Regions from separate parts of the Homo sapiens genome. Here region 1 is linked to region 2. Evidence: fine-mapped expression QTL. A gene starts in region 2. The other region holds a variant in brackets. All regions are shown on one strand. Distances are from middle to middle. Region 1 overlaps NOS1 (nitric oxide synthase 1). Region 2 holds the start of FBXO21 (F-box protein 21).

Evidence for each region.
Region 1: its variant is fine-mapped to the expression of FBXO21 in whole blood (TOPMed, PIP 0.99).

Annotation. Positions count from the first base shown.
Region 1 is chr12:117,256,385-117,264,384 of GRCh38, forward strand. NOS1 (nitric oxide synthase 1) reads right to left here. Exons shown (of 29, transcript NM_000620.5): 13 at 7,505-7,590; 14 at 4,081-4,225; 15 at 2,642-2,746; 16 at 2,013-2,071. Among named protein-coding and RNA genes, the nearest start is that of FBXO21, 70 kb to the left of the region's middle. The variant G/A (reference allele first, on the strand shown) is at 4,557.
Region 2 is chr12:117,181,594-117,198,761 of GRCh38, forward strand. It overlaps FBXO21 (F-box protein 21), which reads right to left and starts at 8,877. Exons shown (of 12, transcript NM_015002.3): 1 at 8,625-8,877; 2 at 7,634-7,769; 3 at 4,884-4,978. The coding sequence starts at 8,863. RefSeq lists an enhancer at 8,004-8,093 and silencers at 8,564-8,613, 8,894-8,993, 9,034-9,093.

The DNA.
Region 1 (8,000 bases), 70 kb after region 2:
TCTCCTGCCTCAGCCTCCTGAGTAGCTGGGATTACAGGTGCACTCCACCATGGCCAGCTAATTTTTATGTTTTTAGTAGAGACGGGTTTCACCATGTTGGCCAGGCTGGTCTCGAACTCCTGACCTTAGGTGATCCTCTCGCCTCAGCCTCCCAAAATGCTGGGATTACAGGCATGAGCCACTGTGTCTGGCCTCAGAAGGGATTTTCTGCTTAACACAGCCAAAAAACACCAGCCAGCTAGAGCATTTGATGTTCACCTTAAGACACAGGGATCTGCTTGCTCCATGCTGGAGCAAATACTGAGTTGGCCTCATGGAAAGGCAGCTCAGCGTGCACACACCATGTGTCCTATACCTTATGGGGGATGCAAGGGCTTTTCAAGGGTCATTAACAAAAATTTTTTTGTCATGGTGCGGTGGCTCAGGCCTGTAATCCCAGCACTTTGGGAGGCTGAGGCAGGCAGATCACCTGAGGTCAGGAGTTCGAGACCAGCCTGGCAAACATGGTGAAAGCCTGTCTCTACTAAAAATACAAAAATTAGCCAGGCATGGTGGTGTGTGCCTGTAATCCCACCTACTCGGGAGGCTGAGGCTGCAGAGTCGCTTGAACCCAGGAGGCGGAGGTTGCAGTGAGCTGAGATCGTGCCATTGCACTCCAGCCTTGGTGATAACAGCGAAACTTCATCTCAAAAAAAATTTTTTTATTTTTATTTTTTAGAGACAGGGTCTTGCTCTGTTGTCTAGGCTGGGGTGCCGTGGTATAATTATGGCTCACTGTAGCCTCAAGCCCCTGAGCTCAAGTGATCCTCCTGCCTCAGCCTCTGGAGTAGCTGGGACTTCAGGTGCACACTACCATGCCCAGCTAATTTTTAATTTTTTTGTAGAGATGGGATCTTGCTATATTGCCCAGGCTGGTTTGAACTCCTGGCCTCAAGCAATCCTCCTGCCTCAGCCTCCCAAAGCACTAGGATTATAGGCATGAGCCACCGTGCCCAGCCATCAATGGTAAGTTTGATTAGATGCTTTTTTACTTTACCAAATACCTTTAGAACTCAATCCCACATTAGATGCGGTTCCATTACAAACATATTTTTGACTACAGGTATGTTTTGTCTTACAAGGTATCTTATCTTTTGAACTCAACTTCTAGATTAGCTGCAACTTCACTGTGAGCATCAGACAGGAAGCTTTTAAGGAAAGAAGTTCCATTCTTTGATTTTAGCTTTTTTTTTTTTTTTTTTTTTTTTTGACAGGTCTGGCTGTTCAGGCTGGCCTCAAATTCCTGGGGCCAAGTGATCCTTCTGGCTCAGCCTCCAGAGTAGCTGAGACTATAGGTGTGCACTACCATGCCTGACTGCCTTGCACTGATTTTGAATGTAGGTTCTCAAAGAGGGAAAAAGAATAATATTTACACAGTGCTTTTTTTTTTTTTTTTTTGAGATGGAGTTTTGCTCTTGTTGCCCAGGCTGGAGTGCAATGGTGCGATCTTGGCTCACTGCAACCTCCTCCTCCCAGGTTCAAGCGATTCTCCCGCCTCAGCCTCCCGAGTAGCTGGGATTACATACATGCGCCACCACGCCCGCCTAATTTTTGTATTATTAGTAGAGATGGGGTTTCACCATGTTGGCCAGGCTGGTCTCGAACTCCTGACCTTGTGATCCATCTGCCTCGGCCTCCCAAAGTGCCGGGATTACAGGCGTGAGCCACCACGCCCAGCACACAGTGCTTTTACATCTAGTTTGTGATTTGATTCTTACTAATTAGAAAGTCAAGGTAGGTGCTATAATCTCTATTTGATAGAAAAGGAAACTGAGGCACAAGGCTGTGAAGTGACCCAGATACCAAAATATTTGCCCCAGTAGACTGCAGACACCTCACAACTAAGACCCATTACAAATGGACTTCAGATTACAGCCACCATCCAGAACTCAAATGTGAACCCCAGGTGCCAAAAGTCAATGTCCAGTTACCCTCGGGGGTGGCGGGTGACGTCGGAGGGGTCATTCACTTACTTCCTTTCTTCCTGCACAGAGTTGGGGTGCCTCATTTCCATCAAAGCACAGCCGAATTTCTGGAAGCCAAAACATATGGGTGAAATTAGCACATCTTAGTAAATGGGAAATCAGGTCGGATACTGAGGGTCTGGGGTCCTGGCTGTCAAAGAGGAGACTGATGCCCGGAGGCCAGGATGTCAGGAGCGGTCAGGGGCTCAGGCTGGACAGTAATGCCTGGGCTACAGACGCAGTGGATACACCTGCTGTTTAAATGACTACAGGTGTGGACTCCCTACCCCCAGCACACAACTTCCCGTTGGAGCCTTCCTTCTATAAAAATATTGTCCCCATGTTCCTCATCTACATCAGGGAACATCAAGCTAATGATAGGAGCAGCCACTGCAAACAAATAGCTCACTTAGGTGACAATATTTTCACCAGGGACTTGCTAACTAATGGACGCCAGTAGACTGAGTACTTGGAATTGTCCAACCTTTGTATAACTTGGATCCAAATGGAAATTACTGGCTTTCAGGCTCTGGGAGGGTTTGCTACTGAATAGCAGGTGTAGGAAGAGTCTCAACCTTGGCCCCTACTTCTTCCTGATGATGGAACCACACTCTTGAACAGGTAAAAGCTCATCTCACCTCCCCATTCTCAGGGGGATCTCCATTGCCAAAGGTGCTGGTGACCACAAGGACCAGAGTTTCATGTTCCAGGTGCACAATGTCATATTCTTCCATGGACATCACCTAGGTGGGCAGGGCACAGGTATAGGATGGGGAGAGGAAGAAGGGGATGAGGAGAGAAAAGAGGTGGGAGAGACAAAAAGTGATGGGGGAAGGGCAAGAGGAGAGAAAGGAAAAATGTGAGTCATTTTGGGTCATCTCCTTTGGAAGGAGAACCAAAAGATCTGAGGTGTTAGTACTTCAGTGGGCTCAAGTGGGTAGAACTAAACGCTTTTTGGTAGCGTGGGACCTTGCTATGGTCACTGTGGCCTGAAGGGTTGTGGAGAATCTGAAGCAATGGTTCAAGGGATTGGCAGATACTAGAAACACAGCTTGATGGAATCCCATGGGATTCTTATAGTCAATTGGTCTTGGATTCTTCCTGACCCCAGTTAGGCCGGGAATGATCTGGCTAGAGCTGACTAAGTCTTCTCAACCTCCTCTCTAATCCTCCCCCGAGCAGTGTGGAGCACCTGGCCAAACAAGTCTGAGATATCTGCCTTCTGGAAAGATGATTGCCCTGTGTCTCATCATCGTCTGAGCAACATTTCTCAAAATAGGTTCTAGAAAATCCCAGTCTCCTGAGATGCTCCATGAAAACAAGCGATCCACGATCAAACATGTTTGGGAAACGTCTATATTCTATCCTCGCCTCTTTTGGAGATTAGAACACATGCTTATAGATTACAGGCTCTGGGAAGTCCTGCCACAGCAATGAAAACCATCGAGCTGGCCGGGTGCGGTGGCTCACGCCTGTAATCCCAGCACTTTGGGAGGCCGAGGCGGGCGAATCAAGAGGTCAGGAGATCGAGACCATCCTGGCTAACACAGTGAAGCCCCGTCTCTACTAAAAACACAAAAAATTAGCCGAACGTGGTGGTGGGCGCCTGCAGTCCCAGCTACTCGGGAGGCTGAGGCAGAAGAATGGCGTGAACCCGGGAGGTGGAGCTTGCAGTGAGCCGAGATCGCGCCACTGCACTCCAGCCTGGGTGACAGAGTGAAACTCCTTCTCAAAAAAAAAAAAAAACAAAAAACAAAAAAACAAAAAAACAAAACCAAAAAACCATCGAGCTGTACTTCAGGCAAAGCTTCCCAAACTGACCTCAGAATGGTTTCTTATAAACCCTCTAACATTTTGCTCTAAAGAGGGGAATTTCATTTTGTGACTCCTGGACTCATGGGGACAGGGATATCACAGTCCCCTGAAATTTATGCAAATGTGTATGTGAGCTGATAGGCCCTGTCAGGTGTGCTTTCATCCTTTGCCAAAGGCTTCTTCTCTGTTGACTTCCCTCTCTCCCCTTCCTGCCTTAATTCACCATGAGAAGCTGGTGGAGCTAGGGCTACCCCCCACCTACCTTGGCATCAAAGGCGTGTTTGAAGATCTCACACAAGGTCTTGGCATAAGCTTGCGATTTGCCTGTCTCTGTGGCATAGAGGATGGTCGCTTTCACCCTCTTGGCCATAGCCTGCCCCATCAGCTTGGCCGAGAACTTGACAGCTCTGGAGGGAAGAGGATGGAGATGAAAAATGGGCAACAGAAAAGGGGAGAGAAGATGCTGGATTGGGACTTTCGTGCAAGAACCAGGATCCATGAAATATAACAGAAGAGAACTCTCTTGATCTTTGATGGCTTCAGGGGTTTCCTCAGAGGCACTTGAAGTCTTTGTGTTTAAGCACCGTATTATTAAAGTATTATTAAATCCTTTATTTTATTTTATTTTTTAACTTCTCTAGAGATAATGCTGGATATTAAATCCTTTATTAAATCCCACCAGAGGCCGGGTGTGGTAGCTCATGCTTATAATCCCAGCACTTTGGGAGGCCGAGGCAG[G/A]TGGATTGCCTGAGCTCAGGAATTTGCCACCAGCCTGGGCAACAAGGTGAAACTCCGTCTCTACTAAAATACAAAAAAATTAGCCGGGAGTGGCAGCGTGCGCCTGTAGTCCCAGCTACTTGGGAGGCTAAGGCAAGAGAATTGCTTGAACCCAGGAGGTGGAGGTTGCAGTGAGCCGAGATCGCACCACTGGGCACCACTGCACTCCAGCCTGGGCGACAGAGTGAGACTCTGCCTCAAAAAAAAAAAAAAAAAAAAAAAAAAATCCCACCAGAGCAATTAGTCATGAATTAAAAGGAGTAGTTAGTTTTGTTAGCTTGTTACTTGATTGATCCCAGGCTTAAGAACCTTGGTTTGCCAAGCATTGCCTCAAAAGATGATCGTTCATCCATTTCCTCTCTCTTTCATTCATCAAATATTTATTAAGTGCTTAACTATGTGTCAGTATTGTTATAGGAAATGGAGACCACAGAGAACATAGCTATGGAATGCAGCTGTCATAGGGCTCATATTCTAATGTGTGTGTGTATGCACATGTGTGAATGAGAGAAAGAGAGAGAGAAATGAATCACGAATTAGTCACCAGGCATTGAGTTTGATGGGATTTAGAGGTTTATTGGTCCACAAGGGAAGGACCAGGTCTGATTTATTCAGCAATGCATGTCAAGGGTCTTGCACAGAGCCTGATACCCAACAGGCACTAAATAAATATCTATCAAAAGAAGTTATGGGATGGGCATAGTGGCTCATGCCTGTGATCCTGGCACTTTGGGAGGCTGAGGCGGGAGGATCACTTGAGGCCAAGGGTTTGAAACCAGCTTGGTCAACAGAGTGAGACTTTGTCTCTACAAAAAAGAAATAAAAGAAGTTATGAATTTTAAAAGATGCTGCCACTGAGACCCTGGGAAGTCTGAACATCAAATCCAGCCTCTTTCTAACTAAACAGAGAAGCCCAAACCAGTGTCTCTTCCTTCTGCTCTACTGGGCAGGGCGAGTTCCAGGGGCACTAGCAGACAGGCCAGAGGCTCAGAAATACCCAGGCTCGACTCCTTAACAAGCCTCCCTGTTGTAACTAGAAATCTCAGTGCAGACAAATCGCTAACTTCCCCCCACCTGGGATTATCGGCGTTAAGTTCATTATTTTTTAGAATCAGGGAAACCGCCCACGATGCAGGAAGACTTAGCTAAGGGGAAGAAACAGAAAGGAATAAAAGGTACCTGGAGGGTTCCCTTTGAATAATTTGAGCATAAAGATGCATCTATAATTAATTCCCATTGTTACTACCCAAAACTTAATAGTGTAATTAATGTTTTAGATTTCTCCCTCCCCTTTCCCCCCAGAGACAGTGGAGCTGAACTGAAGCCAACAATTGCCCTCCCTGAGAATATCTGAGATATTCTTGTTAGGGAAATGGTGGCTGCTGATGTGTTCTTGCTTGGCTGGGGGATGGGATTAGGGTGGAAGGAGAGAGAGGGAGGGAGGGAGGGAGAGAGAGAGAGAGAGAGACAGAGAGAGGAGAGGGAGGGAGGGAGAGAAAGGGGGAGGGGGAGAGAGAGAGAGAGAGAAGAGAGAGGAGAGAGAGAGAGAGAGAGATTGATTGATTCTATGGGCTCTATTAATGGAGCCAGGACCTAGGTTTGGGTCCCTGCAAGACCCACCAGTGTCTTGTCTCTGGGGCCCATGGCTTAGATGACACCTGTTGTACAACTAGTTATCATACATAGAGAATTCTGGACCTGAGGGAGCTGAGGAAACAGAGTAGTGTCTTCTGACAAAAAGTTAGCTCCAAACAGTGGTCTTTGGTAAGTGGATCAGTGGGGTTCTCTTTTTTTTGGGGCAGAAGGCTGGCATCCCCGTTAAATCAACTTAGTTAACCCCATCCTACTTGTCAGCTGGTCCTCTGGCTGGTCAGGCATTCTTCAGGAAAATCACTCCTCAGTAGTCTCAGGCCATAACCCCCTTCCTTCCCCTCTTTGCTTAAACTTTCTTAATCTCATTCTTTAGCTCAATTGTCACCTCCTCCAGGAAGCCCTCCCTGACCTCCCAAACTCCGTGAACCATTATTATTTCCAGGAACCATTCCTCGATGGTACCTTCCACAGCTGCCATGTTTACTGTATTTGTTGATTCTTTGACAAAGGAATGGCTGTGAGCTTCATGACAGCAGGGACAGCATTTGTCTAGCTTGCCATGATCCCCCTGAAGCCTCACACAGTGCCTGGCACAGAATCTGAGTAGCTAGAACTACAGGCGTGTGCTGCGACACCCAACTAATGAATGAATGAATGAGTAAATGAATGAATGAGTAAAATTAAGGGTCAGCCCTGAACGAGGGTGCTCTCCAGGCAGTAGTGTGCTGGAGCTGACTAACTCCAGCTCCTCCCTAGTCTGGGTTCAGTGACTTCCTAGGCCAGGTGTAGTGGCTCACACCTGTAATCCTAGCACTTTGGGAGGCTGAGGCAGGAGGATCGCTTGAGGCCAGGTGTTCGAGACTAGCCTGTGCAACAAAGTGAGACGCCTCCAGCCTGGGGAACAGACCCTATCTCAAAAAAGAAAGAAAGAAAGAAAAGAAATTGGTCATAGTGGGAATGTTTACATCATGGAAACTGGCAAACATGAAAATCAAGGTATTACTATTATTATTATTATTATTATTATTATTATTATTATTATTATTATTAGGAGGGCTGGTTCACCAACACACCATTGCCCCCAGGACAAGAATTTAGGAAACCAGTGTGAGGAAAGTGAGGCTGAGAAGGAGAAGAGTTGGAACGACATTCACAGCTCAGACTCAGAGGCAAAGAAGGCCCAGGTGGCTGAAGAAGATGAAGAAATCATATTCTGTAGAGAGGTCAGAGGGCACAGGAGTCTGCCCAGCCTCCTTCTCTGGGTTCTCTGAGTTTGTGGGGACATCCACCCCACCCGCCCACTGCACGAAACTTACTCTGCTAGCTTCTTGAAGCCAATGGCTCGCCGCTTTGTGGGGGTCCCGTTGGTGCCTTTCCAGACATGCGTGTTCCAGGGATCAGGCTGGGAAGAGAAGGAGAGGGCTATGGTCACTCACTGCAGTGAGGGCATCTGGTTCCTGTTGGGGATGCTCAGGACCACCTGGGACTTGTGACTGCCTGACCCTCGGCCTCTGAAGGGAAGAATTCTGCCCAGTGGTGACCACCATGGGGGAAGGGATGCGGGGTTGGGGGGAGGGGGGGGGTCCTTGCCCAGTGGGTGGTCTGGCCTTGGCAGTGTCCTGCTAGCTCTTTCCCCTTGGCCCCCAGTCCCTCTCAAACTCTGTTCTTGTGACCCCTGACTACTCACTCTCATTTCATCCCTCTTTCTCTCTCTTAAGAGACAGGGGTCTCACTCTGCTGCCCAGGCAGGAGTGCAGTGGTGTGATCATAGCTCACTGCAGCCTTGACCTCCCTAGCTCAAGGGATCCTCCT
Region 2 (17,168 bases):
AGACAGTCTATCTATCTATCTATCTATCTATCTATCTATCTATCTATCTATCTAATCTAGCTATCTATCTATCTGAGACAGAGTCTCACTTTGCCACCCAGGCTGGAGTGCAGCGGCATAATGTCAGCTCACTGCAACCTCCACTTCCCAGGTTCAAGCGATTCTCTTGTTTCAGCCTCTTGAGTAGCTGGGATTACAGGTGCCTGCCACCATGCCCGGCTAATTTTTTGTATTTTCAGTAGAGACGGCGTTTCTCCATGTTGGCCAGGCTGGTCTCGAACTCCTGACCTCAGGTGATCTGCCCACCTCAGCCTCCCAAAGTCATGGGATTACAGGTGTGAGCCACTGTGCCTGGCCCAGTGTATGCCCTTTTAATATGCTGTTTCTAATCTTTATTGTAGGACATACTCGTTTTTAAGACCACATAGCACATCATAAACACAAACTGATTTCAAGCTGATACTTTGGCATTTATGGAAACTACACTTTTTCCTTCCCATGCTTTCCATATCCAAACCATAAGCATTTGCCAGGAATGAAAACAAACAGGGTCTTCCATGAAAACTGGTATCCCAAAATATTTTTAAATGCGGGGTATTCTATCATTTAAAAACAACCTTATTTGTTTGTTGGCTCACACTTATAGTCCTAGTACTTTGGAAGGCCAAGGTGGGAGGATCACTTGAAGTCAAGAGTTCAAGACCAGCCTGGGAAACATAGTGAGACACTGTCTCTACCAAATAAAAATTAGCCAGGCATGATGGTACATGCCTGTATTCCTAGCTACTCAGGAGGCTGAGGCCAGAGGATCCCCTGAACACAGGATTCAAGGTTACAGTGAGCCATGATTGCACCACTGTACTCCAGCCTGGGCAACAGGATGAAACCCTGTCTCAAAAAAACAAACAGGGCTGGGCGTGGTGGCTCACACCTGTAATCCCAGCACATTGGGAGGCCACAGCAAGAGGATCTTTTTTTTTTTTTTTTTTTTTTTGGACCGAGTCTGTCGCCCAGGCTGGAGTGCAGTGGTGCAATCTCAGCTTACTGCAACCTCAGCCTCCCAGGTTCAAGCAATTCTCCTGTCTCAGCCTCCCGAGTAGCCGGGATTACAGGCGTGTGCCACCATGCCCAGCTAATTTTTGTATTTTTAGTAGAGGCAGGGTTTTACCATGTTGGACAGGCTGGTCTTGAACTCCTGACCTCAAGTGATCAACCCGCCTCGGCCTCTCAAAATGCTGTGATTACAGGCGTGAGCCACCATGCCTGGCTGGGAAGATCTCTTGAGGCCAGGAGTTTAGTAACTGCCTGGGCAACAAAGCAAGACTCCATCTATACAAAAAATAGAAAAAATTAGCCAGGTGTGGTGGCAAGTGCCTGTAGTCCTAACTACTCGGGAGGCTGAGGCAGGAGGGTCACTTGAGCCCAGGGGTTTGAGTCTGCAGTGAGCTATGATTGCGTCACAGCATTCCACCCTGGGTGACAAGAGTGAGACTCTGTTTCTAAAACAAACAATCCTTTTTTAAGGTCAAAATATGTGTGTTGGGTAACCTATTCGTATTTATTTCTAAAAACACTATAATATATGTCTTTACTAGCTATGCATTTTCATCTTTTTTGGGAACCTGATATGTAAAATGGCAGTATCTCATTGCTGTTTAACACTTTTTTTTTTTTGAGACGGAGTTTCACTCTTGTCACCCAGGCTGGAATGCAATGGCGCGATCTCGGCTCACTGCAACCTCTGCCTCCCACGCCTCCCAGGTTCAAGCAATTATCCTGCCTCAGCCTCCCCAGTAGCTGGGATTACAGGCACCTGCCACCATGTCTGGCTAATTTTTGTATTTTTTGTAGAGACAGGGTTTCATCATGTTGGCCAGGCTGGTGTCGAACTCCTGACCTCAGATGATCCAAGGACTTGGCCTCCCAAAGTGCTGGGATTACAGGCGTGAGCCACTGCACCCGGCCTATTTAACACTTTTTGAATAGTGTATTAAAAGTTTTCCGTGATTGTTAGATGTTAGGATTTGTTCTTCTGTGAATGTCATCCTCCTAACCTTTGAACATTTTTCAATATCTCTTGAGTTCTACTGACTTCGTTCATGCTCTCTTGGCCATATAGAAGTGTCTGCTCTTTCACTGTCTCCGCATTGTCCTTCTTGGTTAAGGTGGTCTCCCTTAGACTATACAAAGTCTCCTATTTTCTTGAGGAATGTTCACTGTGATCATTTAAAAATTTCAGTTGTTTCATCCTTTGGAAAAATGTTTGCATATGATGCACGTTTTCCTTTCTTCCAGCTGGATATTCAGTTATGTCCAGTACCATTTCTTTAAAAATCCATTTTTTCCCTCTGAGTTTAAATATATTAAATTATCTTTTATTCTGGGATGCATTTGTCAATTATCCTCTGCTACTGATGCAGCTATTTTTATTGAATCACTGTGCTGTTTGGATTATAAGTAGCTTTATAAGATGGCCTAATATCTAGTGATGCCAGTTTCCCATTATGATTACTGAAAAATTGTTTTCTGGCTCTTCTTGTGAATTTAGTCTTCTGTATATATTTTATGACATCCAAATGAAAGAAAAGAAAAAAGCAAAACAACTCCCCCCTGCTCACCACCCCCAACAAAAATACTTTGTTTGAATCCTAATTGGAATGACACTAGGTTTATAAATTAATTTGGGGAGAACTGACATTTTTTGTGATAGCAAGTCTTCACATTCCAGGACATGCTATCTATTTTATGTCTTTCAATAACATCCTATAGTCTGAACTGGGAAACCCATTCCCAGGACTCTACTGCCTAGAAACATCACTCCTCACAGTGACACAAAATGGAAAAAAAAGTGGTTGTCCATCTATAGGAAAATTATGTAGGCTAGGCACGGTGGCTCACGCCCATAATCTCAGCACTCTGGGAAGCCGAGACCAGCAGATCACGTGACATCAGGAGTTTGAGACCAGCCTGACCAAGAGGGAGAAACACCGTTTCTACTAAAAATACAAAATTAGCTGGGTGTGGTGGTGGGCACCTGTAATCCCAGCTACTCAGGAGGCTGAAGCAGGACAATCTCTTGGACCCAGGAGGCAGAGGTTGCCAAGATCACGCCATTGCACTCCAGCCTGGGCTACAAGAGCGAAATTCCATCTCAAAAAAATAAAAATAAGTAAATAAATTATGTAACATACCACAAAAGAGTAAGTAGACATTAACAATAGTGATTTTGATGTTTTACCCGTTGAAGAGGATGGATTTCCATAAGGTACTGTTGAATGAGAAAAAACAATATAGAAAAGTACCTATTATGTGATCCCAATTTTGTGCAATAATGATCCCTTCCCATACTCATCACTGTCAGCAAGAAGAATGCAACCTGGGCTGTTATCAAGAATTACAGAGGTGGGGGCAGGAAAGGACAATGTAAACAGAGGGAATGGGGAGGAAAAAGGAAACAGCATAAATAAGAGAAAAACCAGGTCTGTACTAAACACCAAACCAAAACAACCAACAAAGTAGGTATGAGGTCCCATTTATGTATTTTAAAGTACATATGCACATTAAAAAACACAAGTCAGCTTTTATTTTTAAGACTGCACAATACTGACTACTAGATCATACTTCAATTCATTTATAGATAAACCAAAATAGAAATGGAAAAATGACCTCTGCATCTGAACTCATCCAAGGCCTAGAATAGTGACACATCTTACCTCTACCCACAGTTGTTCCACTGATAGATATTTCTCTCTCCTAAATCCCCTTTAAAAAACAACATAAATATTTCATGCCTTGTTTGTGAGATATTTCGCAAAGATTCCTTTTAAGGAAGATGTTAAACTAACATTCTTATCTTCCATCACTAGAAAGTTTTCAGAACTTTTAGAACAGAAAGTCTTTTCCACAGGAAAGTTAGGCTGGAAGCCCACTCATCTTTCAGGGAAAAACTGGAAATTAACCTTCACAGCAGAAAATAAAAGGTATATGAAATTTTAAGCAATAACCAAGACATAAGGGGTTCTTCTTGATCAAGTGAGTCCCTAAGTACGCAGTTTTCTGACTGGAAGATAAAAGAAAGGCTCACCCAAAGATCTACAGTGTTCAAAGAACAAAGTAGATTATTTTGTACCGCAATTCAGAAATTGTAAAAAATCATCCATTAAATTAAGACATGCCTAAGAAATTATTATTTTTAAATTAAAAGATTCAATTCATGATAGGCAAATCTGATAGTAAGTGGAGAGGTAATAATGAAGGAAGGATGATTTATATTACCAGAAGGTTTCTTTTTTTTATGAGACGAAGTCTTGCTCTTGTCCCCCAGTCTGGAGTGCAATGGTGCAATCTCGGCTCACTGCAACCTCCACCTCCCGGGTTCAAATGATTCTTCTGCCTCAGCCTCCCGAGTAGCTGGGATTACAGGTGTGTACCACCACACCCAGCTAATTTTTTGTATTTTTTTAAGTAGAGATGGGGTTTCACCACGTTGGCCAGGCTGGTCGCGAACTCCTGACTTCAGGTGATCCGCCCATCTCGGCCTCCCAAAGTGCTGGGATTACAGGCGTGAGCCACCGTGCCTGGCCTATTACCAAAAGGTTTCTAAACAACACAACAGATACAAGGGTCTGGGGCACAGTATTTGACCCATAGTAGTGCTAAACATTAATTCCATTTTCTTTCCAAAAGGATTTTTGTAAGGTTTCTTTATATGTCAATTGTCTTGGTGTATCTACCTAATATACACAGAACTTTTCAAAACTGTAACTATGACAAGGCGTGAAATATTTGGAATCACATATTCCAGGGTTTAGCCACACAGAAATTACAGCAATTTACTCTGGACTTATTAAAGCAAACAAATCCCTGCTAAAGCTATGGCTTACCTTCCTTCCATATTTAGGATACACACCAGTTCATCCTCAAAAAAAATCTCTGGTCCTTCAAGGTTCTCAATGTCACTGAAGCCATTACAAGGAACCTATGAAGAAGACATATACAAGTAGGCCTCAATTATGAGTATTGATGCAACTCTCACTCTCACAAATTTGAGCTGAAATAAAGATGTCCACTACTAAAGACAGTGCTAACAGTTATTCTACACTACCTTGCACTACCAGTCATGGGTAGAAAATAACATAAAGTAACAATAATTTACTGAGGTTTTGTTGTTGTTTGTAATCAATGATGTTTTCATAGACTGGAATTTCTGAAACTGACAACTCACAGTTCTAACGTAAAGAAAACTAGCTCTGGCCGGCCATAGTGGTTCATGACTGTAATCCCAGAACTTTGGGAGGCCAAGGCAGGCAGATAACCTGAGGTAAGGAGTTTGAGACCAGCCTGATCAACGTGGTGAAACCCCATGTCTACTAAAAATACAAAATTAGCCAGGCATGCCTGTAATCCCAGCTACTTGGGAGGCTGAGGCAGGAGAATCACTTGAACCCGGGAGGCGGAGGTTACAGTGAGCCAAGATTGCGCCATTGCACTCCAGCCTGGGCAACAAGAATGAAACTCCGTTTTAAAAAAAATAAAAAGGCGGCGGCGGCAGGTGCAGTGGCTCACGCCTGTAATCCCAGCACTTCGGGAGGCTGAGGTGGGCGGATCACCTGAGGTCAGGAGCTCGAGACCAGCCTGACCAACATAGAGAAACCCCATCTCTACTAAAAATACAAAATTAGCCAGGCGTAGTGGCGCATGCCAGTAATCCCAGCTACTCGGGAGGCTGAGGCAGGAGAATCACTTGAACCTGGGAGGCAGAGGTTGCGGTAAGCTGAGATCACACCATTGCACTCCAGCCTGGGCAACAAGAGTGAAACTCTGTCTCAAAAAAAAAAAAAAAAAAAAAAAAAAGATCTTCTGAGTTTAAAATTCTATGGCTTCTCTCAGTTTTCTTTTTGCAAGTAGCCAGAACATTTCAGGTCAACCTGTGTGCATTCTGAGAACACAGGAACGCCAAGATCCCGGGCCAAAGCAATCACCCACCCACAGATTAATGTTAAGTATGCTCCCGCTGTGTTCAAAGTCCTTGACATACTTCTAATTAAGCAGTGGTACAGGAAAAGGGGGAGCTGAGGAAAAAACACAACAATCCATCATTATTACACAGAGGCACAGACTGTTCAAAACATACACAAAACCAGCTGGACTAGAAATGGAGGTTGCAGGCTCATAGTCCATGACCAACTGCACCAAACATAGCTAGTACCAAAATCTACGTATGTGCAAACACATTCAGATCAGCATTTACAATTTGTGATTATGAATGCTTTTAGCCAGGGCATGGCTTCTCCAAAGTAAAATACAAATTTTGTTTATTCTAACACTAATAAATATTTATAGAAACCAATTACACTAAGGAATGTCTATTTGTATTCTCCATAGGGGAAAACATTCAAATTTGTCCAAAGTTCAAATTTTCCCTTTCAAAACTTGAAAAGCCTTGAAAACATTTCAAATTATTAACTCCATTAACTAACAGTAATTAAAATTAGAGAATCCAAAGGAGTCTTTAGGAAAACAAAAAAGTGAAATAAATCAGATTGGCTCTATTTCTAGAACCCCAACCAGAAATAAATATCGAATAGTTTGTTGAACTCAAAACATTAGTGTGGATTATTTTCCAGAGTTACAAAAAGGGATCAGGGGCAGATACAGAAACTTCCGTGAGGCCAGGCACGGTGGCTCACGCCTGTAATCCCAACACTTTGGTTTGCAGAGGCCGGCGGATCACTTGAGACCAGGTGTTCAAGACCAGCCTGACCAACATGGTGAAACCCCAACTCTACTAAAAATACAAAAATTATCCAGGTATGGTGGCGCATGCCTGTAGTCCCGGCTACTCGGGAGGCTGAGACATGAGAATTGCTCGAGCCCAGGAGTAGGAGGTTGCAGTGAGCTGAGATTGCGCCACTGCACTCCAGCCGGGGAGACAAAGCAAGACTCTGTCTCAAAAAAAGAAAAAAGAAAGAAACTTCCATGAGACATTTTGAGGAAAGAAAAAAAGAAAACAAAACAAAACAAAACAAAAAAAACCCACCATGTATTTCTGCAATACTTAAAAAAAAAAAAAAACCCAAAAACTTTTCAGGGATAATGAATGCAAGACAATTCATTTCAGGGAGTAATAACTCTGATTTATAGGTAGCTTTTAATCCTCTGTTACCTTAACAAATAATGCAGTTCACTACTGGGTAGAACCTGCAAAGCCAGAGAGAAGAACCACATTAATTTCGTCAACCCTTCTGGGAAAACAACCGGGAGAAATTTACAGTGTTCAATCATTGATGATTCCCCAAATAACGGAGGGGTTGCAAAAAAAATCCGTTGAACCCATTTGAGAAATAATGCTGATCTGGACTCCGTCTACATTGTGCTGCGTGGGTCCCTCCCTGCTCCCTCCACCCCCACTCTCTCTCTGGCTTTAGAAAAGTAAAGCTGGCACAGACAAATGGCTTCGTGTTGTTGGATAGGAGGAAAAGGACACAATGACTCTTGCAGCCATCTAAGTGAGTAAGGGATTGTGAGAGCATTGAAAAGGGAGATACGAAAAGAGCTGGATGAGCTCATGCCTGCAGACCCAGACACATACACCAGCAAGCCAAAGCTTAGAGCCACATCAACAGATCCTTACGTGCTCTGAAAAGAACCTCTTTGAGAACGAGGCTACAATCTTCCGCGCTTCTAACCCAGCTTTTTGCCGAACTTTATACTCTTCCAACCAATTGACGTAGTCGGTGGGGCTGTAGTGTTTCATAAGGGAAGGCCACCTACGAGGAGAGAAACACCCCCTCAGCTTAACAGAAACTCAAAGGCAGGCGGCCACGAATCCAAGGCAGCCTTGGAAACAGGGACAGCAGTGGCGTCCAGTGGTAAGAGGGACCCCGGCGAGAGACCTAGTTCAAAACCCCACCAGCATTCACTCACTCACTCCCGGTGTGACCTTGGCGTAGCGGCATGAATGATGTCTCCATTCCCCATCTCTAAAATGGGGACAGTTGTAACAACAACAACAATAATAATAATGACAATGACAGTGAGCACTGATTGAGCGCCTCCTAGGAGCCGGGGCCCTGCGTGCGTGCCTCCCGGACATCATCTAATTTAATAAACACGGTGAAAGGTAGGTCTAATGATCACCACCACTCAAAGTCTATGAACGAGGCTCAAAAAAAGGGAAGTCGCTCCCCCCAAGGTCACAGAGGGAGTGTGCAGGGCCAGATTTCATCCTGGGGCCACGCTGAAATCTGTGCCGTCCACAACCAGCCCGGGGATGCTGCGCCCGCCCGATCGATGCATCACTGGGTCCATGTAAACATTTCAGCCCGAAGTCGGGCACAAAAGAAGCGCGCAAAAGGGACGAGCCGCGCCGCCGCCAGCGTCACCCTTGACGGAGGACCCGGCTGCGAGGCGCTCCTAGATGCGCCATTTGGGGACCCGGGGGTCCGCCTGGCGTGGCCCCGCAGGGTCCGGGGCCTGGAGGCCTTTGTCTGTCTGTCCGCGGGAAGGGGTCCGGGGTGGGGTCCGCGCGCGGGGCGGCCGCGGGGAGCTAGCGGGGCGGCTGCCCGGCCCCGGGGGGCGCGGGGCGGTGGGCGCGCAGCCGGGGCGCGGGGCCGCTGGCTCACCTCACCCGGAACTGCTCCTTCCACACCTTCCCGCTGCTCTGGCACAGCTCGCGCAGCCGCCGGCAGGTGCTGGAGACACGGCCGATGTCGGCGGCCGTCAGCGAGCCGCAGCACAGGATGTACTCCAGCACCTCACCCGGCAGGTTGACGAGGCAGCTGAGGCCCGCTACCTCCGGCGCGGCCTCCTCCGCCAGCGCCGGCACCACCTCCATCGCGCTGTCGACTGCTGCCGCCGCCATCTTGTCCGCGTACCTGGGGCCGCCGCGCGCGCGCGTGCGAGAGTGCCCGGGCGCCCCGCCTGGCCCCGCCTACTGGTCTTGGGGGCGAGTCCTGAGATCGCTCCGCCCATCCGCGGGCCACACCTCCCCTGCATCGGCTGGGGGCTGCGCGGGTGGCAGCGCCGCAAAAGGGAGGACATAATTGGGCTCTGTGCTTGGAGCCGGCAGCGCAAGCCGCCTCTAGTCCGGGACAACAATAGTAGCACTGATTCTTTTAAACGTAATTAATGTTTAAAATTAACAAATAAAAATGGTATCTATTCTCACGCGTGCTGAGCGCTTTCTGTGCGCATTGGACCTTTCCGAATTACCCTGCGAACTTTCTCCCCATATTACAGATGGGGAAACAGGTTCGGAGAGTGAGAGGGCTTGCTCAGGATCCCTTGTCTTGGATTTTTTTTCCCCCTTTGGGAAGGAGTCTTGCTCTCACCCAGGCTGGAGGGCAGTGGCGCTATCTCGGCTCACTGCAACCTCTGCCTCCTGGGTTCAAGCGATTCTCCTGCCTCAGCCTCCCGTGCGGATGGGATTACAGGCGCGCGCCACCACCCAGGTTGGAGTGCAGTGGCCGTGATCTCGGCTCACTGCAACTTCCACCTCCCTGGTTCAAGCAATTATCCTGCGTCAGCCTCCCGAGTAGCTGGGATTACAGGCGCCCGCCACCACAGCCAGCTAATTTTTGTATTTTTAGTAGAGACAGGGTTTCACCATGTTGGTCAGGCTGGTCTCGAACTCCTGACCTCAAATGATCCACCCACCTCGGCCTCCCAAAGTGCTGGGATTACAGGCGTGAGCCACCGCGCCCAGCCCCTTGTCTTGGATTCTATTTCAGATCCACTTGACTTTTGCTTGTCAGTAATCTTAACCATATGATGTAATAATAACAATATTCTTGAGTGGGTGCTATGGGAAGCCCTCTATGATGGTGTAGGGGAGTAATAATAATCCTCAAATGTGTGCCCTGATTTTAGGCTAATAGAGGGCAGGCAGAGAGCTCTCCTGTACTGGTTTCTTAATTGTTTCCAGCTCAACAATCCTTCATATTTGGGGAGCATAGTCTGACCTCCCACAATAGGTACCACAGTTATACCTATTCTACAGAAAAGGCAAAGTTCTTCCAGGTGGCAGTCACTGGTTCAAAGTTACAGAGACAAAAGTGCTAAAGCCTGGATTTGAGTCTTCAAAGCGGGAGTTATCACTCAGGATTGGGAGGGTAGTCTCAGGATCTGCACATTAAAAAAAAAAAATCAGTTTAGTTCAGTGCCAAAGCCCTGTGTTGTGTGCCCTGGGGATACAGGGGTGAGAAAAATGGAGTCTTTGCTTCAAAACCTCAAAGTGCAATTACAGTTAGAAGGATCTGTTGTCAGTACATGGAGGGTCCAATGAAGTACTCCTGGCAACTTGGAAATCAAGATGCCCTGAGAGAGCTGAACTAGTAAAGTGACTCTCAATGGATGGCGTTGAGCCATCTGTGGCTCCCTATTTCCCGTAGAAATGAATGTGACATCCCAAACATTGTTGCAAAGCAACAAACTCCACCTCTTCTTACCTATCTGAAGTCTTTCTCTCTCACTAGCCATGCATACCCCAGCAAGGCTGGTCATCTCTTTCCTCCCATTTCTGGCCCTACATATACTATTCCTGCTGCCTGCAAGGCACTTCATGCAGTCCTCCCCTTCCAGTAGCTCCTCCTCTTCCTCCAGGGCTCAGCTTAACCTTTCCAAATGCTCTCCCTTCCCCCGCCCCAGCACCAGCACCAGATATGGCTCCTGCCCAGCATTTTGCAGTCTTGTAATTACTTAACTTACAACTATTCAACATGCATCTTTCCCACTAAATCTGAAGGGAGTTCAGTGCTAGGACTGTGTCTGAGTCACCTCTAGAAGCCTAGTTACTTGACCCATGCCCTGCACAGAGCAGATTCTCAATTATCTATTGATTGCGATAGTCTAACCAGCTGTTTGACTAGGGAAGTTACTTAGCCTTTCTGAGGCCCAGTTTTTTATCTGTAAAATGGGAATAATAATTAATAATAATAATGCCTGTCTCCTGGGGCTGTCATGAGAATTAAATGAGGAAATTCATGTGAGGGGCATAGAACAGTGGCTGGTATAGAAAAAATCCTTGAGCCGGATGCGGTAGCTCACACCTGTAATCCCAGCACCTTGGGAGGCCAAGGCAGGCAGATCACCTGAGGTCAGGAGTTCGAGACCAGCCTGACCAACATGGTGAAACCCCATCTCTACAAAAATGCAAAAACTAGCCGGGCATGATGCCAGGTGCCTGTAATCCCAGCTACTTGCGAGATTGAGGCAGAAGAATCGCTTGAACCAGGGAGGTGGAGGTTGCAGTGAGCCGAGATCATGCCTTTGCACTCCAGCCTGGGTGACAGAACAAGATGCTGTCTCAGAAAAAACGAAACGAAAAAAAAATTGCTTGACAAAACTGTGTGGGAAGCAGGGAGAAATGGCTCAATGGATATGGGTTTTTTGGTTTGTTTGTTTGTTTTTTGAGGCAGAGTCTCACTCTGTTGCCCACGCTGGAGTGCAATGGCACGATCTCGGCTCCCTGCAACTTTGGCCTCCTGGGTTCAAGAGATTCTTCCGCCTCAGCCTCCCGAGTAGCTGGGATTACAGGAGCATGCCACCATGCCTGGCTAATTTTTGTATTTTTGTAGAGACAGTTTCACCACGTTGGCCAGGCTGGTCTTGAACTCCTGACCTCATGATCTACCTGCCTCGGCCTCCCAAGGTGCTGGGATTACAGGTGTGAGCCATCGTGCCTGGCCTGGATATGGATTTACTTTGGGGTGATGGAAATGTTTTGGAAGTAGATAGAGGTGGTGGTGGTGGTTGCACAGCATTGGGAATATACTAAATGCCACTGAATTGTTCTCTTTAAAATGATTAAATTTTACCAGCATGGCGGCTTAAACCTGTAGTTCCAGTTACTCGGGAGGCTGAGGTGGGAGGATCACTTGAGCCTAGGTGTTCAAGGTTGCAGTGAACTATGACTACACCATTGCACTCCAGCCTGGGTGACAGAGCAAGACAAGACAAAGCCTTTGTGACTCCACTGTCTCCCGGTTCTCCTCTCACCTCTGGGGCTGCACCTTCTCCATCTTCTTTGCAGCCACTCAGATGTTACATGTTGAGGTATCTTGGGCCTCAGCCAGCCCTCTTCTTTCACTATCTTGCCTCTGTCCACAACTCGAATGATGATCCAGATCCAATCGAAATATCCACATTTCTCTCTTCTGCCCCACCCGCTCCTCTGGGATCTAGTCTGGCTTAGCCTGCTCACCTGCCATTCCCTTTGGGCCCTTCAAACTCAACTTATCCAGGAGGAAACTCATGATCTTTCTTCTCCACTTTACCTTGTCTTCTCTTAGTAGTTCCTGCCTTAGGAAGGGCTACTCATTCATCCATTCCTGTAAAACATGAACTTGTCACCATCCTTGCTACCTCTTTCTCCCTCACCATCCATAACCAAATGCCCAACAGAGGTTAATTTCTGTAAGCCTCAGTTTCCTAATCTATAAAACAGGGATAAAAATCTATCTTGCTATTAAATAAGACATATACATCAGTTAGTATTGCTGTGTAACAAATAAACCCAAATTTAGTGACTGCTCTGTTTTTGGCAATGTGGGTACAAAGGTGAACAGGGTAAAGTCACAAATGCCCTGGTCACAGAGCCGAGATATTAGCATAGGTGACAGCGGATACCGCCAATACTATCAGGACTCATCAGTGCTATCCTTAGGCAGTGATAAGTACTGGGAAGAAAGAGATAAAACAGAGGAAGAATATGGAGAATGTGGACAGTGGCAGTCTCCTTTTTCTTTTCTCTTTCTTTTTATTTTCTTCTTTCTTTCTGTCGTCTCTCTCTCTCTTTCCTTCTTCTTTCTTTTTTCTTTTCTTTTCTTTTTTTTCTTTTTTTTTTTTTTGAGACAGAGTTTTGCTCCTGTCACCCAGGCTGGAGTGAAGTGGCATGATCTCTGCTCACTGCAACCTTCACCTCCCGGGTTCAAGAGATTCTCCTGCCTCAGCCCTCCAAGTAGCTGGAATTGCAGACATGTGCCACCACATCCAGCTAATTTTGTATTTTTAGTAGAGATGGGGTTTCACCATGTTGGCCAGGCTGGTCTTGAACTCCTGACCTCAGGTGATCCACCCACTTCGGCCTCCCAAAGTGCCGAGATTACAGACGTGAGCCACCATGCCTGGCTGGCTTTTTTTCTTTCTTTCTTTCTTTCTTTCTTTCTTTCTTTCTTTCTTTCTTTCTTTCTTTCTTTCCTTCTTTTTTCTTTCTTTCTTTCTTTCCTTCTTTTTTCTTTCTTTCTTTCCCTTCCTTCCTTCCTCTCTCTCTTTTCTTTGTTTCTTTCTTTTTTCTTTATTATTTTTTGAGATGGAGTTTCGCTCCTGTTGCCCAGGCTGGAGTGCAATGGCCGGATCTTGGCTCACTGCAACCTCCGCCTCCCGGGGTTCAAGTGATTCTCCTGCCTCAGCCTCCCAAGTAGCTGGGATAACAGGCATACACCACCACACCTGGCTAATTTTGTGTTTTTAGTAGAGATGGGATTTCTCCATGTTGGTCAGGCTGGTCTCGAATTCCCGACCTCAGGTGATTCGCCCACCTCAGCCTCCCAAAGTGCTGGGATTACAGGCATGAGTCACCGCGCCCGGCCTCTTTTTTTTTTTTTTTTTTTTGAGAGAGAGTTTCACTCTGTCATCCAGGTTAGAGTACAGTGGCGTCATCTCGGCTCACAGCAACTTCTGCCTCCTGGACTCAAGCCAGCCTCCCACCTTAGGCTCCTGAGTAGCTGGGGCTGCAGGCACACACCACCAAGCCCGACTAATTTTTGCATTTTTTTTTTGTAGAGATGGGGTTTCACCATGTTGTGCAGGCTGGTCTCCAATTCCTGAACTCCCGCCTCGGCTTCCCAAAGTGCTGGAATTACGGGTGTGAGCCATGGCGCCCAGCCTTCTTTTTCTTTCATTTTAACTTAAATTGTTTTCCTTGATTTATATTTGCAATATGAAATAGAAGCTTGGCACAAACACACACTCATGCCAGCCTGGGGAGAGAGGGCTAGGGACAAGATCACTTGGCAGCAGGGCTGGTACCCCAGATGCTTAGTTAGGATGGCAGGAGGGGGATCCCGAACCCTCACCCAGCCCCTCCTACCCTGGGGTCCATGAAATGTACAGAAGGGGAGAAGGAAGTATGGGATGTTGGTGAGAGTGTCCAGGGCCCGGTGGGATTGTATGAAAGAATGGCGCACACACAAAAGATTTACATACCTATCAAAGGGACAGAAGATATAATTACAAACACAAATTTTCTCAAGGAAATTCTCCAAGAAAGGAAGAAGGGAATGAGTCTCTTTCCTTTTTGGCATAGGGAAAACTCTGTTTTTAAATTTCCCCTAGGATACCCTTTTGCTGAACTGGCCTCACGCCCTGACTATATCCAGCTGGTCCCCTCAACCCTAATTGAACCTAATTGGGGTCCTCTTGGCCTGCACAGCAAAGCCAAACACTGACATTGGGATTGCAGTGAGGGAAAGTGAGGCATTTATTGCAGGGCCCCAATCAAGGAGAATTGGGGAGCTCATGGTTTAAGACTCAAACTCCCTGATGGCTTACAGGTAAGAGTTTTTTAGTTTGTTTGTTTGAGACGGAGTCTTGCTCTGTTGCTCAGGCTGGAGTGCAATGGCACTATCTCAGCTCACTGTAACAACCTCTGCCTCCCAGGTTCAAGCGATTCTCTTGCTTCTCAGCCTCCTGAGTAGCTGGGATTACAGGCATGCACCACCACACCTGGCTAATTTTTGTATTTTTAGTAGAGGCAGGGTTTCATGATGTTGACCAGGCTGGTGTTGAACTCCTGACCTCAGGTGATCCACCTGCCTCGGCCTCCCAAAGTGCTGGAATTACAGGCGTGAGCCACCGTGCCTGCCCACAGGTAAGAGTTTTTAAAGGCAAGGAGGCAGAGGTTACAGGCAAAGCCATAAATCAATTACATGGAGGCTATCCATTGGTTTGACCTAAAAAGGCGGGACATTTGGAAGCAGAGGCCCACAGGTCATAGGTAGATTCAAAGGTTTTTTGTTGTTGTGTTTTTTGTTTTTTGTTTTTTTGAGACACAGTCTCACTCTGTCGCCAGGCTGGAGTGCAGTGGCACGATTTCAGCTCACTTCTACCTCTGCCTCCTGGGTTCAAGTGATTCTCCTGCCTCAGTCTCTGTAGCTGGGACTACAGGCGCACGCCACCACACCCAGCTAATTTTTTGCATTTTTAGTAGAGACGGGGTTTCACCATGTTGGTCAAGATGGTCTCGATCTCTTGACCTTGTGAGCCGCCCGCTTTGGCCTCCCAAAGTGCTGGGATTACAGGCGTTAGCCACTGTGCAGGGCCCTGGATTCAAAGATTTTTTGACTTGTATTTGGTTAAGGAGGTGAAGCTTTGTCTAAAAAAATTGAGATTTGCAGTAAAGAATGTTAGCTCTGGCTGGTAGCCGTGATCTCCTCTAGACCCCACAGGAAGAAATTTAGAACAAAAAACAGTGGTCAGGGTTCGGTCCTCAGTTTCTCTTTATGTGAGGTCTACGGCCAGTGGGTCTGTTTGGTGGGGGTCTGGGATCCTGAAAAACAACCCACAGACGTGTGTTAAGACACTATCCTTAGTTTCTGTAAGCGAACCAGACATCCCATGATTCTAACTTTCTTGCTAGTGTTTTGAGCTACTATTACCTTCTTGCTTATCAAGTCACTCATTTACTTCTCAGCAAGGTGCCTGGAATTACTAGCGAGGTGCCTGGAATTTCCCTTGAAGGAACTCAAAATTTTTCTTCATTTCCATGCTTGGGAGTTCCTGCTCTATCCCACAGTCCCTGCTAAAATCACCCTGCACAAACTCAAATCCTAGAATAAGTCCCTCTGGGATCCCTCCTCCCTGGCTTCCCAGTGGTCCTCTAGGGTGGCCTCTCCCTTGCTGCAGCAAGGTAAAAACTTATCTTTGTTGGACTACAGATGAATTTCTCGTTATTTTTGGCTGGCGAGGTCAACACCCCTCTCCAGTGAAATCTCCACAATCTAGCCGCAGATACCATTTCAACTACCCTCAACACTGTCCACACCTGTTTTGCCAAGATCCAAGCTCCCATTCTTTCTGTAATTTTAAGATGTTAATAAGTTTCCAAACTCCATGGCAGCGGGGAGGTGAGTAATCTTTTGGTGGGCCTCTTCCGTGTGCATGTTCATAAATTTGTATGCCCATTCTCTCTTTCTCTCTCTTTTTGTTTTGGAGACAGGGTCTTGCTCTGTTGACCAGACTGGAGTGCAGTAGAGCAGTAATAGCTCACTGCAGCCTTGAACTTCTGGGATGAAGCCATCCTCCTGGCTCAGCCTCCCAAGTAACTGGGACTACACGTGTGTGCCACCATGCCTGGCTATTTTATTTTTTGAGATAGAGTTTCGCTCTTGTTGCCCAGACTGGAGTGCAGTGGTGTGATCTTGGCTCACTGCAACCTCCACCTCTTGGGTTCAAGCAATCCTCCTGCCTCAGCCTCCTGAGTAGCTGGGATTACAGATGTCTGCCACCACACCCAGCTAATTTTTTTGTATTTTTAGTAGAGACGGGGTTTCACCATGTTGGCCAGGCTGATCTTGAACTCCTGACCTCAGGTGATCCAGCTGCTTCGGCCTCCCAAAATGCTGGGATTACAGGCGTGAGCCATCGCGCCTGGCCTATGCCTGGCTATTTAAAAAAAAATTTTTATAGAGATGGGAGCTTGCACTGTTGCCCAGGCTGGTTTTGAATACCTGGCTTCAAGCAATCCTCCTGCCTTGGCCTCCCAAAGGCCTTTTCTCTTATTAATCTGCCTTTTGTGAGTTGATTTTTCAGTGAAACTTCTGAGGGCAAAGGGGAAGTTTCCCTTAGTCCCTACAGTGTTCCTTGTCCTCATAATTAGTACTTACATCCTTTCTTTTCTGGTCCACTTCTCTGCCCACCTGAGGGCCTTTGCTGATACGGTTCCTTTTCCCAGGAGTGCCTCCTCAGCCACACCTACTCATCTTTCAGATTTCTGCTCAAGTGCTCCTCTGTAGGAACACAAGTCCATGAACCCAGGCTAGGCAAGCTCCTTCTGCCTTGTGCCTTCTCAGAACCCTATGCCTTTCATTCAGTACACACTCACAAACTGTAGGAATGCATACATGGCCATGATTACTAGATTCACCCTCCCGCAGGGGCAGATCTGGGTT